Regions from separate parts of the Homo sapiens genome. Here all the other regions are linked to region 3. Evidence: fine-mapped expression QTL. A gene starts in region 3. Each other region holds a variant in brackets. All regions are shown on one strand. Distances are between the middles of the regions.

Evidence for each region. PIP is the estimated chance that this variant, and not a neighbour inherited with it, causes the effect. A credible set is the group of variants that fine-mapping cannot tell apart.
Region 1: its variant is the best candidate, but not a certain one, in a credible set for the expression of AMZ2 in whole blood (INTERVAL, PIP 0.85).
Region 2: its variant is the best candidate, but not a certain one, in a credible set for the expression of AMZ2 in whole blood (TOPMed, PIP 0.70).

What each region holds. Positions count from the first base shown.
Region 1 is chr17:68,193,638-68,199,706 of GRCh38, reverse strand. It overlaps LOC105371870 (a long non-coding RNA gene), which reads right to left. Exons shown (of 4, transcript XR_934937.4): 4 at 5,031-6,069. It also overlaps the pseudogene ARHGAP27P2. Among named protein-coding and RNA genes, the nearest start is that of AMZ2, 51 kb to the left of the region's middle. RefSeq lists silencers at 66-145, 156-295, 326-415. The variant C/A (reference allele first, on the strand shown) is at 3,852.
Region 2 is chr17:68,269,611-68,275,679 of GRCh38, reverse strand. SLC16A6 (solute carrier family 16 member 6) reads left to right here. Exons shown (of 6, transcript NM_004694.5): 3 at 1,610-1,753; 4 at 2,913-3,041; 5 at 4,026-4,841. It also overlaps a transcript of ARSG not described here. Among named protein-coding and RNA genes, the nearest start is that of SLC16A6, 18 kb to the left of the region's middle. The variant G/A (reference allele first, on the strand shown) is at 2,311.
Region 3 is chr17:68,244,914-68,250,982 of GRCh38, reverse strand. AMZ2 (archaelysin family metallopeptidase 2) reads right to left here and starts at 2,940. Exons shown (of 7, transcript NM_016627.5): 1 at 2,278-2,940; 2 at 513-795; 3 at 16-189. The coding sequence starts at 795. RefSeq lists silencers at 1,455-1,504, 2,814-3,113 and enhancers at 3,328-3,873, 3,874-4,420.

The sequences.
Region 1 (6,069 bases), 51 kb after region 3:
GGAGCTCATTCCAAGTCTTCAGACAGAGGTGGGCATCGTGCCCGACGCTGAGCGGAGCAGGTCTCCTCGCGCCCCGGCTCCGTGCGGGCGCGGTCCCCAGCGCGCCACCCCTGTTCCCCGCTCTCCTCCCGCGGCGGGCCGTGCACATCCTGGATGGCCTCGTAGACGGTCTCTGAGTCGCTGCGCGCCAGGGGCCGCGGGCACATCCAGGAACCCGCCACACTGCAGCCTTGAAGCTGCCGCTCCTTCCGAGGTGGCCGGCGGGAGGCGAGACGGCGGCGCGCGCCAGGTAGTCCAGGGACTGCGCAGGCCGCAAGTACAGGCAGGCGGGCAGGCCGGGCGCCAGGCTGCTGCGCTGGGTCGCGGCGCCGCGTTGCGAAGGGCCGCACAGGGAGCTGGCGCGGCCTCGGGGCTCCGCGGGGGTGCTGTCGGGGCCCGCTGCCGCCGCCGCGCTCACAAGCCGGTAGTCGTAGGTGAGCGGCTCGGGGGCCGAGGGGACTGTTGGGGGGACCTGGCGGCGCGGCAGTGGCAGGTTGTCTCGTCCGGGCGTTCCCGTTCGCGGGGAGGTCATTTGCCCAGCGCAGGCAGCTCGCGCACGTACTGCGCGGGCAGGTAGAAGGGGTGGCCGCCAGGCTCGCGCCGCACGTGCCACCAGTGCTCCGTGCTGCGCCGCAGCAGCCAGTAGCGCTCATTGGGCCAGATGGCCACGCGGCGCCAGTCCTTGCGGGTATACTCGAAGGGGTGCTCCACCACCAGGTAGACATCCCCCTCCACATACGCCGGCATCGTGGCCGCGGCGTTTTTCTGCAGGCAACAAGGAGGAGGGCCGTGGAGGTCAAGACCACCGAGCCTGGAATAGCCCCGCACTCGGGGACAGACTTGGGTTCGAGTCCCGATGCTGCATTCGCCGTTCGCCTTCGGGCCTGAGTTTTTCCATTTCTAAAATGGGGACTTGAATAAAATCACATGTAAGGCTTCCATTCTTACACTCAGTGCTGGAATTACGACAACCTCTTCATTCCGTGGGGTTGATTCTAAGATTTCAGCCTCGCTTCAGTCCTGCGGTGGGGAGATTGTGGGTAGTCTTGGTCCAAATCGACTGCGAGGGAAACTTTGGTTTTAAAACGAGGGGTGATTGCCCGCTCTGAGGTCGACACCACGCTTACTCAGGTGACTGAGCCTTAGTTTTCCATCAGTCAAGTGGGAAGAGCAGCCCATTGCCAGCCGCTCCCCGGGCCCTGTCCCGCCTGGACGCCTCCCGCCCGCAGAGAATCCGCAGAGTCCCGTAGCACCGCCTCCCTCCAGGAGCCTGCGCCCCGGCCCCTGGGTCAGGGTTGGGATGCGGGCTCTGCAGACGCCCCGGAGAACAGCTTTACCTGCGGGCTGTCCCTGCCCGGTTTAGTCCAAGGGCCTCGGTGTGAGGGCCTCCGCTGTCAAGGCGGGGGAACCGGTTCTCTTGGTTTCTCTCTCCTTCCCCAGAGGCTTCAACGCAGACGTGAGCCCCAGCCGGGCCCGCCCCGCCCCCTGCTCTCCGGCTCTCACACCGCACCCCCCCCGAAAAAGGCTGCCCACCTGCCCTGGGACCCCCCGGATGCCTCCACGAGAGTGGCCCCTGGAGAATGCACTCTGAGACAGTGACTATCCGTGCGGAGTCCCAGAGCAGGGGCCCCCAAAGCTCTCCGGAGTGGTCACAAGCCCCGCTCCCGCCCCGGCTCCAGTGTGTCAGGGATGGGGGAGAGCCTAACTAAATCTGCCTGCACCCCTCCACCAAAGCCACGAGTCGGTGGTCTTCTCCGGAAGTGCATGGCCCCTCCAAGCTCCCACACTGACCACATCTCCTCCTGCCTCCTAAGGTGACCCGGACCAGGGGCCAGGAGACCGCCGCTTGCCGAGGCTGAGGGACTGAAGGAGCAGGGTCCAACCAGGCCCCCCGTAGGGCTCCTTCGCCACTTTCTCAAGCGTTCCTCGACGAGGAAAAAGTGTAAACTGAGTCACTAAGCACACTGGGTCCCGGAGGCGGGGTCATCGAGCTGCCCAGAGCTGGACCAACAAACCCCAAGGAGGACACTGCCCCGGCGCCCCTTCCCCATGGACCCCGCAGCGCACTCACGTCGGCTGGGCGGGCCTCAGGGAGCCCAAGGGCCGGGGGGGGCCGAGCCGGCAGGTTAGGCCCCGACCATCGCCCTGGGCGTGGCTTCCAGGGGCGAAGCCGGAGAGGCTGCACGGAACCGGAGCTGGCAACGGGAGCTAAGAGGGACAGGGACACTCAGGAGTGCTGTCACCGATACCCAAAGCAGCTGTGTCTGGGCGGGGCGAGGAGGGGCCAGAAGGCCTCTGCTGGGGACCTTGGGGGCATGGGGAAGACAAGGCCCGAAGCAGAAGGCCGGGGCCTGGAGCCGGGAGGGCTGCGTCTGAAGGGGTGCTGGCTGATCGCTAGCAGAACCCAAGGAGGGTGGGGCCGCCCCTGCCCGGCCTTCCCCCTTCTCCCCTCACCTGGGGATTTGCTGTCCCTGCGTCCCTGCGTCCCTCCCGCACGCGGCTCTGGGAATGCTGGGCTGGGGCTGGTTGTCTTGTCCGGGCGTTCCCGCTCGCGGGGAGATCATTTGCACCCTGAATCCCCCACTGCGAGCACTTCCAACCGGACTGCAGACCGCCAGCTCCGGGCCCGCCTCCCTCACCAGGGCCTTTCCCCGCACAGCCCGGCCGGGCTTGGAAAAACTCCGAGCGGGATTCCCAGCGCAGGGACGCCCACCAGGCGCGGTGTCTCGGGCTGGATAAGAAGGGGACCCGGCCACGGCTCCTTCCCCGACCTGGGGGCACACAGAGAAGGAGAGAGATTGGTGGGGGGGGCGGGGTGCCGGGAGGATCCCTGGAGCGCAGGAGCGCACCAGTCGCCAGGAGGTCTCCTGCGTCCACCGCCCAGGCGACGCAAGATACAGAGGCGTCAACGCCTGGGTGGGCGTTGGGGGCCTCCCTGCTGCCCTCCAGCCCAATGGAGGGCAGCCCTTCGCCTACCTTCTCCTTCGCGTGGGATGCGGCCCGCGCAGATCCTGCCCCAGCGCGGAACTAAGGGGAGCAGGCGCGCGGAGCTCCCAGGTGCGGACCAGCCACCTGCCGCACCCTTTCCTCCCCCACCCTGTCCCCTTCCCCACCCCCTACCCCCACCCCTAACCCCACTTCCCACCTCAACCCCCGCTCGGCGCCTCACTCCCGACCCTGCCTGCCCGGGCAGCTCGGGGCGTCCGCTCGCCGGCCTCGCCTCCACTTGCCCCGGCAGGCGCGCGTGGGCTCGGCGTTCCGCGCTCCCTCCTCGACCGCGCGGCTCCCGCGCTGCCAGGTTTCCTGTATAACAGTATAACCAGGGAGGCACCGGCGGAGAGCGCCTGGCAGAACTTCCCGGACTGGGTCTGGGCTGCAGTTGACAGAGACAATCCCCGGCGCACTGGCTTCCTGGCGCCGGGCCAGCGCCTGAGGAGCGAAGACGCCACCCCCTCCCCTGCTGCACTTCCCGGGATCCTGGGCCACACCTGGCTGTCTCCAGGGAGGAAGAGGCCGCGGGGCTGAGATGGTGGGACTGGGGATGGCGGGAGTCTCCCCCGCAGCTTCTCCTGGCCAGATTGCCTTCCCACCATCCCCCAGTCCCTCTTGATCCTTGTGGGGAAAGAGGGCCACCCTCCAATCCGTCCACAGGGTAAGCTCAGAACAACCTCCTGGAGGCCAGGAGTCCAGCCCCAGGGCCCTCTGCCTTGGAGGTCTTCTGTTTGGGAATTATCTGCCTCTCTGGACAAGCTGCCTTGCCCTGATCTGAGCCTGCGCTCACTCCACACATCACAAGCCCCAGCCCCAGCAGA[C/A]CCCCTGCCCTCAGGGGCCCCAGGAAATTGTTGTGCCTGTGGACCTGGCTGTGTGTGCGCAGAGCTGGCTGATTCAGGCTAGTGTTCTGGGAGGAAGAGACGCCCGCACCCCAGGCCATGGCCCCTCTTGACACCACCTCCTGGGGGTCCAAGGTTGGGTGGGAAGCTGAATCTGGCCACACTCGTTCTGGAACTCCCTTATCTCTATATGTTTGCCCCCGCTAGGCGTTGCCCACCCGTTGAATCCACACTTACTCTGAGAATCTCAGTGTGTCTGAGACCTGGTGGCACCTTGGGACCCTCCAGGGTGGGCACACAGCAGAACTCAGCATTGGTCTAAGCATTGACCTGCTTAGAAAATAGTGACTGGAGGAATCTTCTCTCCCTCCCTACCTTTTAGGTCTCTCCCCACCTGCACACAGCCAGGCAGCGGCTGGCAGTAGTGATGGTCTTTGCGTGGGGTCAGGCATGTATGATGCCCCACTCTGCTGCCTGGTAGGCCTTGGGAGTTCTGCCTTATCTCTGCAGCTCAGCTTTCTTTCCTATCAACGGGATAGTAACACCCACCTCACTGGATTATTGGGAAGATTAAATGAGGTCCACTAAGCAGTGCTTACCACATGCCTAGCGCACACCATATATCAGCCTTTTTTTTTTTTTTTTTTTTTTTTGAGACGGAGTCTCGCTCTGTTGCCCAGGCTGGAGTGCGGTGGCACAATCTCAGCTCACTGCAACCTCCACCTCTGGGTTCAAGTGATTCTCCTGCCTCAGCTTCCTGAGTAGCTGGGATTACAGGCACCCGCCATCAGCTATTTGATTTGAGCTATTATTTGAGCTCAAATCAAGGAAACTTGACTTGAAAATTAAATGATTTCTTTGCTTTATAAGTTAAAAAAATGGTTTAAAAGTTTAACAAATGGTTGAACTAAAATGAACAGAGCCTCAGTGACCAGTAGGAGAATTCTGAGTCTACCATACGTGTAACTGTAAAAGGAAAGGAAAGAGATATTTTGGCAAGTAACTCCTTGGCAAATATTTGGCAAATATCAAAAGAGGCTGAATTAAAATTCTGGTAGAATTTTTAAAATAAATTGACAGGTGAATTCTAAGATTTATATGTATACGCAAAGGATCTAGAATAGTCAGGACAATTTTCATAAAGACTAAGAAACTGGAGGATTTGTTTTACAGAACCTCAAGTTTTAATATAAATATACACTATCAGGAGACACTAGTATTGGCTAAGGAAAGAAAAATAGACCAATAGCATAGAATAGAGATTACCGAACTAGACATACACACATATATGTTTAATTTACTTTTGATAAGATGCCAAGCAAATCTATGGGTAAAAGAAAGAGTTGCCACATGGTGCCGAACTATATTTCCATATATTAAAAAAATAAACCAACCTTCCATGAAATGCAAAAATTAACTGAGTGGATAATAAGCCTAAACAGAGGGCTAAATAACTGTATGTCTTCTAGAAGAACGCATTGGAGAAATTACTTCTGACTTTGGAATATGCAAATGTTTCCTAAAGAAGGCACAACACCTACAAAATGTGTTTTAGAATGATAAATTGATTGTATTAACATTGTAAACTTTTGCTCATCAAAATACGTGGAAAAAATAAAAAGGTGGCCGGGCGCGGTGGCTGACGCCTGTAATTCCAGCACTTTGGGAGGCCGAGGTGGGCAGATCATGAAGTCAGGAGATTGAGACCATCCTGGCCAACATGGCGAAACCCTGTCTCTACTAAAAATACAAAAAATACAAAAACAAAAACAAAAAACATTAGCTGGGCATGGTGGCAGATGCCTGTAGTCTCAGCTACTCGGGAGGCTGAGGCAGGAGAATCGCTTCAACATGGGAGGCAGAGCTTGCAGTGAGCCGAGATGGTGCCACTGCTCTCCAGCCTGGCAACAGAGCGAAGTCTCTAAATAAGTAAATAAATATCAAAAAAATAAAAAGCCAGAGACAGAAAAAAATTATTTGTACTATATGCATACCTGACAAGTGACTTCTATCCAGGACATATAGTTTTTCTACAAATCATTAATAAAAAGACAACTTAAAAATGGCAAAGTAAGTGAGCCATATTGGCTTTCAAGGGCTATAGGATATTACGAGCCTTATATAAATACACAGATACACATTATTAAATATTTCATTGACATTTTCATGAATAAACCAGAAAAGCAACTTATTAGTTTAA
Region 2 (6,069 bases), 25 kb before region 3:
TTGTGGAATGCTTAATTACCTTCTTAGAAAGATAACAAATGAATTAGGACTAAAATGTTACATTTGGTAATCTAAATAAAAAGAAAATCCCAAAGCTTAAGTTTTAGGTCTTTTATAACTAAAAATAAAAATGTAGTCAACAAGAAATTTCCACTTAATACTATTATACCAGAAGATAATTCTTCCAAATGCTATTATTCTAGTTGTTAATGCTTTGAGCCAACATCCTGGCTCAAAATGATGAGAGTGGTTTTATTATGAGCTACATCCAAGATTACTTTGTATTCTAATAGTTAACATAGTAGATACATATAGACTAACCCAAAAAAATGGAATCCTTTTTTTCCCACTTCCTTTTCTAGCATGTTGTTGTTCCTTGACCCAACTCTCAATGGCTCACTTACGTCACTGTTGTCAAGTTAATATTAAGTAACCTATAACTAGGAAACTAATTTGCCAGATTTAAATGTCCTAGGGGATACAGCTTATAGAAGCTAAGCAAATGATGATTCACTTTCAATTATCTATCCCATAGCAACTCTCCTTCAGGAGTGCATAACTTAGAATTCACATTCTTTCATCCTGTCAAGAAACTAACTAGGCTGGGCGCGGTGGCTCACGCCTGTAATCCCAACACTTTGGGAGGCCGAGGTGGGCGGATCACCTGAGGTCAGTAGTTCGAGACCAGCCTGACCAACATGGAGAAACCCCATCTCTACTAAAAATACACAATCAGCCGGGCATGGTGGCACATGCCTGTAATCCCAGCTACTTGGGAGGCTGAGGCAGGAGAATCAGTTGAACCCAGGAGGTGGAGGTTGCAGTGAGCCGAGATCACACCACTGCACTCCAGCCTAGAAAACAAGAGCAAAACTCCATCTCAAAAAAAAAAAAAGAAAGAAACTAACTAGAATCTGACCCCAAATGGAGCTTTTTAAAAAGAATCCAAAGTAGTGAGTAGAGAAAAAATAATTCAAGCAATCATAGGAAAACCAATTTTTATTATAGAATAACATAAATTCAATACATATCTAATTTTATAGGTGCTCATGGTGAGTCAGAGTCATCTAAAAATATAGATAAAAGTTTTATACTGTTATTCTGGCTTTCTCTTTCAGGAGTCTGACAAATCGTGTTGAATTTGAACAAATAGTAAAATAATTCCTGCACTGACTTTGCATGAAATGTGTTATGGTTTGGTTTTGTTTTTTCTTGAGACAGGGTCTCACTCTGTCACCCAGTATGGAGTGCAGTGGTGCAATCTTGGCTCACTGCATCGTCTGCCTCCCAGGCTCAAACAATCCTCCCATCTCTGCCTGCCAAGTAGCTGGGACTACAGGTGCACACCACCATGCCTGGCTAATTTTTGTATTTTTTGTAGAGACGGGGTTTCACCATGTTGCCCGGGCTAGTCTTGAACTCCTGGGCTCAAGCGATCCTCCGTCCTCAACCTCCCAAAGTGCTGGGATTACAGGCATGAGCCACTGCGCTCGGCCATATTTATATTCGACATCATCTCTCCATGTGCAAGACGTGGAGGAAGGAGTCTTATGGCAGCTAACCCTGAAGCCTCTGTGAGTTAAAATATCGTTTTGTTCTTTCCCGGCAGCTCCCCTCGCCACAGTCCTGAGCAATCGTTTCGGACACCGTCTGGTAGTGATGTTGGGGGGGCTACTTGTCAGCACCGGGATGGTGGCCGCCTCCTTCTCACAAGAGGTTTCTCATATGTACGTCGCCATCGGCATCATCTCTGGTAAGTGTTCCTCTTTGGCTCAGAAGTTGTCTAGACACTTAGTTTGAAGAACAAGGAAGGGGAAGGAGGAAATTAAAGCCAAACTATATTTCTTTCTCTTTCTTTTTTTCTTTAACATTAACAGTGTCTCAGATCAGTAGTTTTGAACTGAGCTATATGGACTTCAGGGGACCTGGGAATCTGTTCTCAAGTGCCCAAGGGTTTTTGTTTGATCTTCACCAAAGATGATGATAATTTCTCTTTTGCTGTATTTGCAGCCAAAAGATAGCATTTTTACAAAGTAAGACGAATTTCTGTAGCCAGTATTTCTCACATCAGTGTCTGAGGATCCAGGGCTGTAGGGGAAGTGCAACATGCCAGACTTATTCTTGGGGGCCTAAGAAAACCTTTTTCCATTCAAAAGGAGTAGCCAGCATGGTGGCTCATGCCTGTAATCCCAGCACTTCGGGAGGCTGAGACAGGAGGATCACGTGAGCCCAGCAGTTTGAGACCAACTGGGGCAACATAGGGAGACTCCATCTCTACAAAAAATAAAAACTAGCCAAGCGTGGTGGTGC[G/A]TGCCTGTGGTCCCAGCTGTAACCATCCTATCACTTTGGAGGCTGAGGTGGGAGGATCACTTGAGCCTGGGAGGTCAAGGCTCCAGTGAGCTGTGATCACACCACTGCACTCCAGCCTGGGCAACAGAGTGAGACCCTGTCTGTTTAAAAAAAAAAAAATGAAATGAACAATAAAAGGAGGCCATATATTCCTCATAGATGATAGATACACACACAGTTGTTAAGATTTGCAGACTTTAAATTTTTCCTGTATTTCTGCACATATGAAATGACTTATTTCTTTCTAGATACAAATCTTATATAAAATTTCATGCAATAATAGTTTCATCCATTGTGAATTATATAAATTTGAAAAAAAGTGTTGCAAAGATAAAAAAAAAAAAAGTTATATTTTTAGTATCCCAAACAACCACTGAAGTTTATCCAGACCGTTAATGAAACCCATTTTTCTTTGCAACATCACCTTTGTCCAGAATGAATTACTTGGCTCCTAGAACTTAAGATTCAAAAAGCAAAACCAAAAATCCCAGATCTTTTAATGCATCCTTCCAGTCTCAAGCAGTATGTGGGTCTCATTGGCTTTTTTGACTTTTCTTTCACAGGTCTGGGATACTGCTTTAGTTTTCTCCCAACTGTAACCATCCTATCACAATATTTTGGCAAAAGACGTTCCATAGTCACTGCAGTTGCTTCCACAGGAGAATGTTTCGCTGTGTTTGCTTTCGCACCAGGTAGGTGGACTACAACAGCCTAAGTATGAATGTGGATGAGAGACGTCACTCAGGTATTCTTGCTACGCTAACTTTTGCCAACAGTATGGATGACTTTCAGTGTATGTGTAATGAGACGTTATTTACGTCTCTTCTCCAGCTCATTTTTAGGATCTGTCCTCCCTAACCCCCACTTTAGGTATTCAGACCACCTTAATAATAGGTTTCAATTCCTAACTGGGCACATATGCAGTGGTAGGGCTTTCTTGACACATGCATTCCAGAATAATCTAGTAATTTGCAATTATTCACCTGTTATGTCCTCTCGTTTTTCAAAAGAGCTACATTCAATGTGGATTTAGATTATGCTAATAAACACAGCATTCTTATCTGTGTGTAGATCATCTCAAAACAAAATCTGTAACTGAGCACGGTGGCTTACACCTGTAATCCCAGCACTTTGGGAGGCTGAGGTGGGCGGATCACCTGAGGTCAGGTGATCGAGACCAGCCTGGCCAACATGGCAAAAACCTGTCTCTACTTAAAACACACAAAAAAAGGCCAGGTGCAGTGGCTCATGCCTGTAATCCCAGTACTTTGAGAGGCCGAGGCAGGCAGATCAGGAGGTCAGGAGATCGAGACCATCCTGGCCAACACAGTGAAACCCTGTCTCTACTAAAAATACAAAAATTGGCTGGTCGTGGTGGCGCACGCCTATAGTCCCAGCTACTCAGGAGGCTGAGGCAGGAGAATCGCTTGAACCCGGGAGGTGGAGGTTGCGGTGAGCTGAGATCAGGCCACTGCACTCCAGCCTGGTGACAGAGTGAGACTCTGTCTCAAAAAGTAAATAAATAAAGATTGAGTACATTCATACTGCTGAGTATAATAAATTTCCACAGAACTTATAACAAAATCTGGATCCATATTTCTTCTTGATGGCTTCTCCTGGGTCTTGAGTCCATTATTGACCTTATATTATTTCTTCTTCACTCCTGCCTATTCAAGCAATCATGGCTCTGAAGGAGCGCATTGGCTGGAGATACAGCCTCCTCTTCGTGGGCCTACTACAGTTAAACATTGTCATCTTCGGAGCACTGCTCAGACCCATCTTTATCAGAGGACCAGCGTCACCGAAAATAGTCATCCAGGAAAATCGGAAAGAAGCGCAGTATATGCTTGAAAATGAGAAAACACGAACCTCAATAGACTCCATTGACTCAGGAGTAGAACTAACTACCTCACCTAAAAATGTGCCTACTCACACTAACCTGGAACTGGAGCCGAAGGCCGACATGCAGCAGGTCCTGGTGAAGACCAGCCCCAGGCCAAGCGAAAAGAAAGCCCCGCTATTAGACTTCTCCATTTTGAAAGAGAAAAGTTTTATTTGTTATGCATTATTTGGTCTCTTTGCAACACTGGGATTCTTTGCACCTTCCTTGTACATCATTCCTCTGGGCATTAGTCTGGGCATTGACCAGGACCGCGCTGCTTTTTTATTATCTACGATGGCCATTGCAGAAGTTTTCGGAAGGATCGGAGCTGGTTTTGTCCTCAACAGGGAGCCCATTCGTAAGATTTACATTGAGCTCATCTGCGTCATCTTATTGACTGTGTCTCTGTTTGCCTTTACTTTTGCTACTGAATTCTGGGGTCTAATGTCATGCAGCATATTTTTTGGGTTTATGGTTGGAACAATAGGAGGGACTCACATTCCACTGCTTGCTGAGGATGATGTCGTGGGCATTGAGAAGATGTCTTCTGCAGCTGGGGTCTACATCTTCATTCAGAGCATAGCAGGACTGGCTGGACCGCCCCTTGCAGGTAATTTAAATACACAAAATACAAACACTTGTCTACTTTCCCTTGTGAATTGTGCTAGCTTCCTGTTCAAGCCATAAAAAAAACTTACTGCCGTTTTATATTTCCATTGAATTTTAGAGCTGCCAGGGATTAGAGATTACCTGAGCCAGCCCTCTTGATTTAAATATGAGGAAACTGAAGGCCAAAGAATTGAAGCTAAAGGTCAGATGGTAAATTAGTGGTCGATTCAGGACTGGAAGCTGTGTCTGTAGTCCAGATTGACCCTGGCCTTTTTTTTTTTTTTTTGAGATGGAGTCTCGCTCTATCACCCAGGCTGGAGTGCAGTGGCGCAGTCTCAGCTCACTGCAACCTCCACCTCCCAGATTCAAGTGATTCTCCTGCCTCAGCCTCCTGAGTAGCTGGGACTACAGGCACCCACCACCACGCCTGGCTAATTTTTGTATTTTTAGTAGAGATGGGGTTTCACCATGTTGGCCAGGATGGTCTCAATCTCTTGACCTCGTGATCCGCCTGCCTTGGCCTCCCAAAGTACTAGGATTACAGGTGTGAGCCACCGCACCCGCCAACCCAGGCTTTTTCTGTCACCTTGCCTTCTCTCATGCTAGGCAAGAACTCATGGATTTATCACCTTCAGAGCCCACCTGACTTTTGGAATGATAGAACTAATGGACTTCTGTAAGTCATCTTCCTTTCTTAGGAAAGGTATTTGGGAATGGATAGCAGCACTCTGTAAATACCTAACTGATTTGTACAGAATATTTCCTTGTAGGAGGGACATAGGTATGTTTCATATCTTAGATCCCAAATGGGTCTTTAAAGTGTTTGTGATTAGAAATCGTACCCCCTGTCAAAAGATACCTAAAACGGGCCGGGCGCAGTGGCTCATGCCTCTAATCCCAACACTTTGGGAGGATGAGGCGGGCGGATCATTTGAGGTCAGGAGTTCCAGACCAGCCTGGCCAACATGGCAAAACCCCATCTCTACTAAAAATACAAAAGTAGCTGGGCATGGTGGCAGACACCTCTAATCCCAGCTATTCGGGAGGCTGAGGCAGGAGAATCGCTTGAACCTGGGAGGCAGAGGTTGCAGTGACCTGAGATTGCACCATCGCACTCCACCTGGGGCAACAAGAATAAAACTCTGTCTAAAAAAAAAAAAAAAAAACCTAAAGTGAACTCAAGTGAAAATAATACAGTTCCTTCCTACCGAAGAATATTACCTTTTCAA
Region 3 (6,069 bases):
AGTCGTGTAATTCACCTGCATGAATTTGTAGGTTGTGTGTGTTCTCATTGACTCTAAAGGAACATCTTGTTACAGAAACAGGAACTGGTTCTAGGAGTTTTACTCTCAAGCCATAGAAATATGCTTTACAGTAGCCCGTGAGCCATTTAATATATTCTTCACTGATAATTCTGGTGTTTCCTAGAGAGCCTACAATATGGAAGAACATTTAAAAACAGACTTTAAGATGATTATTCAGTGTTTACCCAGTCTATGAGTAAGAAGATTCAAATTAGAAACAAAACCAACTCTAAATTTTCAATAACCTTTATCATTCATTGGTGTTGCTATGAAACAAAAAGAAACAAAATGTTATCTTTTAAGTCAGTTTGGCTACAAAACTTGTACCGCCGCAATGAATATCAAAAACGATCCTAAAACGGCCCATCTGAATCAGACCCATAGCCTGGACTATTCCTGACAAGAGCGCCACTGCAAAACTGAACCAAAACCAGCACATTACCAGTATTTACCAATGGACTGTATATAAATGCTGCGTTTGTTTGGAGAGGGTGTCTTTCTGTAAGGATCACTGAAGAACTGTTCAAAGTCTTGGGGAGCCTCAGGGTGGGAGGTGATCCAATCTGATGGAGAATGCAAGGTAATGGGTCCAAAGAGATCACTGGCTGGCTGGAAGGCTTCATTCATTAAACGTTGTTCCCCAGCATTTAATTTCTCATACTGTGATACAAGCACTGGGTTCTTTGAGATGAGAGCTGTTTTTAGTGTCTGTTCGGAGTGCCGTATTATTTGCATCTAACAAAAAAAAGCAAGTAATCAAATATAAAAATACATATCTACATTGGGGACTTTACCTATCCTCTATATTTCAGCTCTGATTTCTCCCTAGAGTGAAATGACTGATTGCTAATGCTTTAGAGTGGTCACACTTAGAGTGGTTTCCTCATGTCCAATTTCTTGGAGATCTAAGAAATTAAAAAGACAATCATGAAATCCATTCCTCCATCTCATATGGAACCTGCTCCCATTACAAAAACTAGTGGTGGCCAGGTGTGGTGGCTCATGCCTGTAATTTCAGCACTTTGGGATAGGAGGATTGCTTGAGGCCAGGAGTTTGAGAACAGCTCAGGCAACATGGTGAGACCCTGTCTCTACAAAAAATTTAAAAATTCCCTGGGCATAGTTGTGCACATCTGTGGTCCTAGCTACCAGGGAGGCTGAGACAGGAGAATCACTTGAGCCCAGGAGCTTGAGGCTGCAGTGAGCCATGACTGTGCCACTGCACTCCAGCCTGGGCAAGAGTCCAAAACAAAAAAAAAAAACCTCACGGTGACCACAGGAGCAGGACCTCACACCCAACTTCCTTCTTTTGGGGAATAATATTGGCCTGGCACAGTGGCTCACGCTTATAATCCCAGCACTTTGGGAGGCCAAGGCAGAAGGATTACTTGAGCCTAGGAGTCTGAAATCAGCTTCGACATCATGGCAAAACCCCATATCTACAAAAAAATTAGCCGGATGTGGTGATGTGCACTTGTAGTCCCAGCTACTTGGCAGGCTAAGATGGGAGGATCATCTGAGCCCAGGAGGTCGAGGCTGCAGTGGGCCGTGATCGTGCCACTGCAGTCCAGCCTGGGCAATAGAGACTCTGTCTCAAAAAATAATAATATGAATTAACTCATCAGTGCCACATGAAAAATACTCATCGTTTCTAATGTGACTCAAAGATCTTCAACATCAAATAAAAACAAAACTAATGTAAGCCCTATCATTTCTGCAATTTAACTGCAGGCTGAGAAACTACAGCTTAGCCACTGAAGTTTATGGCCTCAAAGTCATGTCACATTAGGGAAGACATCAGATGACTAATCAAAAGCCAGCCTCACAATGACAGGTTTCTTCCATTCACATCGTGTTCCTATATAGAGCTTTCATCCTTCCTCTTGAATGGGTCCGATGTTCCACCACGAGGCTTTTTGAATTAAGGAAAAAGTTGAACATCTCTGTCTGGATCATCTTTGTCATATTTTCTAATTATTTAGATTTTGCCAGTTTAATGATAGACGATTGATGGGAAAACTTAAGCTAATGTCTGTTCTGATTGAACCTATAAATTCTGGGGTTGAAGAGGCTGACTAAAATTCCAGACCAAATGTCTCTGTACTCAAAGCTCTGATATAAGCATAGGCTCATCCTCACTCCTACACAACTGGGCTGAAATCTGACTTCTACAGGACAAAATATAAAACAAGATGTACCTTCCTGTAGTCTACCTACCTTGATTAGGAAGGAAGGCTCCCATGGAAGCTTTTAACTTACAAGGACGGACATGTCTGGGCCTGGCTGGAAGAAAGTTGTGGAGTGTGACTTCATCTTAATATTAAAAAGGCAGTGTGAAAGGTCAGGAGGCCTCCTCTTGCCTCCCAAGCCTAATCTAGGGAAGCTGCGGGAGAAGATGGGCAGGGGGCGCAGAATTCGGTCACTGCAGTGGGCTGGAGGCCTAGGATGCTTTGGTCCCAAAACCAGAACATCACGGGCAAACGGGAAGGAGCTGGCCACCCTGGCTGGTTGCCTATAGCAACTCGCACTGTGGGCTCTGGTCCATGCAGACACAACCCAGTCTCCAGCTGGGAGTGGAGTGGGGGTTCCCCAGGGACTCTCGCTTCGCCTCTTCTTCCCCAGGAGCCTCGGGAAAGGCCTCCCTGGCTCCCTAGAGGCACCGACCCCGCGGACCCCGCGGCTTCCGCCACGTCCGCCCCTCCTACATCCTCATCCCGCTCCACCGACCGCGACCGGCCCCCGCCTCTACGACCCGGCTACCCTGCCTAGGGGCCCCGGCCCAGCTCTGACAGCACCCGCGAACCGCCCTGACCCGACAGGCCTCGATACCACCCACCCGCGGCAGCCCTCACGCGCATGCGCACCGCGTCCCTTCGCACTGCGCCACGCCACGCCCACTGGCGCCACGCCCCTTACGCCACGCGCCGCGCCGCTGCGTCGCGCACGCCCTGTGGGCCCCGCCCAACTCACGACCCACCCATGCCACGCCCCTGAGCGTGCGGCCGCCTGGGCAGGCGCAGAGCTGGAGTTCAGCGGCCGCGACCCGCCTCTTCCAGAATAGAGGGTAGCGAGGGGACTACAAGCCCCAGCTGTCCACCCCCGCAGTCGCCGATTCCTCGCTTGCGCTCGCGGCGGCTCCGCGGCCCGGTTCTCGAGAGCCACAGATGCGCCCGCGTCGCTGGGGTCTCCCGTGTGGGAACGTCCTCGGCAGGCCGCGGGTTTGAGAGGCATCGCCGGCGTGACGAATGCAACCAGCGTGGCCCCAAATGAGTCGGCGGCCGCCGCAGGTTGACGTAGAGCCGCAGCGCTCCCCGGGGCCGTCACCCTCAGCACTTTCCCTTCTTTATTTGTTGGGGGCCGCGGGGGCTGGAACCCAGAAGCGCAAGTGTGGGGCGCGTCCTCGTGGCGTCCCTGGCGCTCCGAGGCCGAAACCCGGATGCTGAGGGGAGGCCGTGAGCTCGGAAAGGCACCGCGGGGCCGGCATTAGGGCTGAGCTAGCTCTGTACCCTCTGGTGGGACTTTCGGTCTCTCTGGGCCTCGCCATTCTCTTTCTTTTTCTTGCTTTTTTTTTTTTTTTTTTTTTTTTGGAGACGGAGTCTTGCTCTGTTGCCCAGGCTGGAGTGCAGTGGGACAGTCTGGGCTCAGTGCAACCTTTGCCTCCTGGGTTCAAGCGATTTTCCCGCCTCAGCCTCCCCAGTAGCTGGAACTACAGGTGCCCGCTATCACGTCCGGCTAATTTTTGTTATTTTTAGTAGAGATGGGGTTTCACCATGTTGGCCAGGCTGGTCTCGAACTCCTGACCTCAAGTGATCCGCCCGCCTTGGCCTCCCAAAGTGCTGGGATTACAGGCGTGGGCCACCGCGCCCGGCTTTTTTTTTTTTAATACGGGTTTTCACCCTGTTACCCAGGCTGGTCTCGAACTCCTGCGCTCAGGTGATCCACCCCCCCGCACCCCGGTCTCCCACAGTGCTGGAATTACAGGCGTGAGCCACGGCGCCCGGCCTGTTATTTTGAAGTCAAGCTATTTTACCATCCTCTGGATTTTCGTCATCCTAATTCTCCTTCCCAGTCTCAAGGAAAGACAGGCACATTTTCTTGATGACTTCAGCATTTGTAACCCCTTGTTGGCTCTCCTTAGAGGACATTAACTCTGAACCTTTCAACTTCGAGGATCTCTTTAGCCCTTCCTTATTTGTTCACTCTCCTGGATCATGAATTCTCCAAATTTGTCCTTTGAACCCAGTGCCCATATCCACCCTCACCTGAACCCATTCTTGAATAAAATGCATTCCTACCATGACTGTTCTCAAAGTTTGAAGTTGAGAATACCGATGCGCCACTCCTGCTTCAATGCTTGAGAAGTCGTGGGCTTTCTTCCATGTGCCTTTTGACTGGGCGCCTATCTCCCGACAGCCTGAGGTGGTGTAGCATAGGGGCGAAGGTGGTCTGTGCTTGAATCCCAAAACCCTCACTAGCGTGGGACCTGTGTCAACTACTTGACCTCTTTTGTAAAACGGAGACAATTACAGCACATCTTTTTTTATTATTATTACTTGACACGAAGTCTCGCTCTGTCATCCAGACTGGAGTGCAGTGGTGCGATCTCGGCTCACTGCAACTTATGCTTCCTGGGTTCAAGCGATTCTCGTGCCTCAGTCTACAGAGTAGCTGGGACTACAGGCACACACCACCACGCCCGGCTAATTTTTTTTTTTTTTTTTTTTTTTGTATTTTTAGTAGAGACAGGGTTTCGTCATGTTAGCCAATTTTTGTATTTTTAGTAGAGACGGGGTTTCACCATGTTGGCCAGGCTGGTCTTGAACTCCTGACCTCAGGTGATCCACCTACTTCGGCCTCCCAAAGTGCAGGGATTACAGGCGTGAGCCACCGCGCCCCACCTACAGCACATCTTAACAGAATTTTAGGGATCAAATGAGTTCCTTTGGATACTGTGCCTGTTTTTGACTGAACAGCTGTCTTCTGACATCCTGAGTGGCTTCTTTAGCTTAGTTGTCACCTCTTCTATAGCCTCATCCTGCCTCATGACAAAACTTTACTTCTGCCTGTTCATTGCCTTGTGTGTACATAATAATACTGCAGTTGTCCTTGTCACAATGATTGTAACCTATTTCTTACATGTCACCCTTACTCAACTGCGAGATGCTTGAGGGTAAAGACTCTCTATACGAGGTGTCTGAAGCATAAAAGGTATTCACTAGATTTTCAGTCAGTTTTTTGGTATTCATTAAAAAGAACTTCATTTTGCGTTTAAACTGTTTAAATTTCTAAATCATGAACTTTGTACTTGCTCACAAATTTTAGGATAGCATTATTTCTGCATGGTCTAATATTTATTTTCTTAAATAACTGACCAGGCATGGTGTCTCATGCCTATGATCCCAGCACTTTGGGAGGCTGAGACAGGAGAAAGGAGAATCACTTGAGCCTAGGACTTCCAGACCAGCCTGGTCAACATAGGGAGACCCCATCTCTAAAAAAAAAGAAAAAAGAAAAAAAAAAAGCCAGGTGTAGTGACACATGCCTGTAGTCTCAGCTACTTGGGAGGCAGAGGTGGGAGGATGGGTTGAGCCTAGGAGATCGAGGCTGCAGTCAGCTGTGATTCACAGCACTTCAGCCTGGGCAACAGAGTGAGACCCTGTTCAAAAAAATAAACAAATAAACACCTTAGTGCTTCGGGGGGGTTAGGTTTTTTTTTTTTTTTACATTAGAAGGAAAAGACACTTTCTCTTACTAAGGTATTTTTGCCTGTTAACTAATATGCAGTTGCAGAATGAACCATAGTCTGTCTGCATTTCAAAGAGCACTACAAGTTCTGATATTTAAAATGAGTGTATATGCCAGTGGCCCAAGGTTGGAGAAGAAAGTTGGTAACAAATTGGAAGGTGGCAGAAAGCAGGAAAGAAATGTAACATATATGGCAGATGAAGGGTTTTAAAATAGCTTTTACAAATCAGCACAGAAAAGATAAACACCATGACATAAAAATGA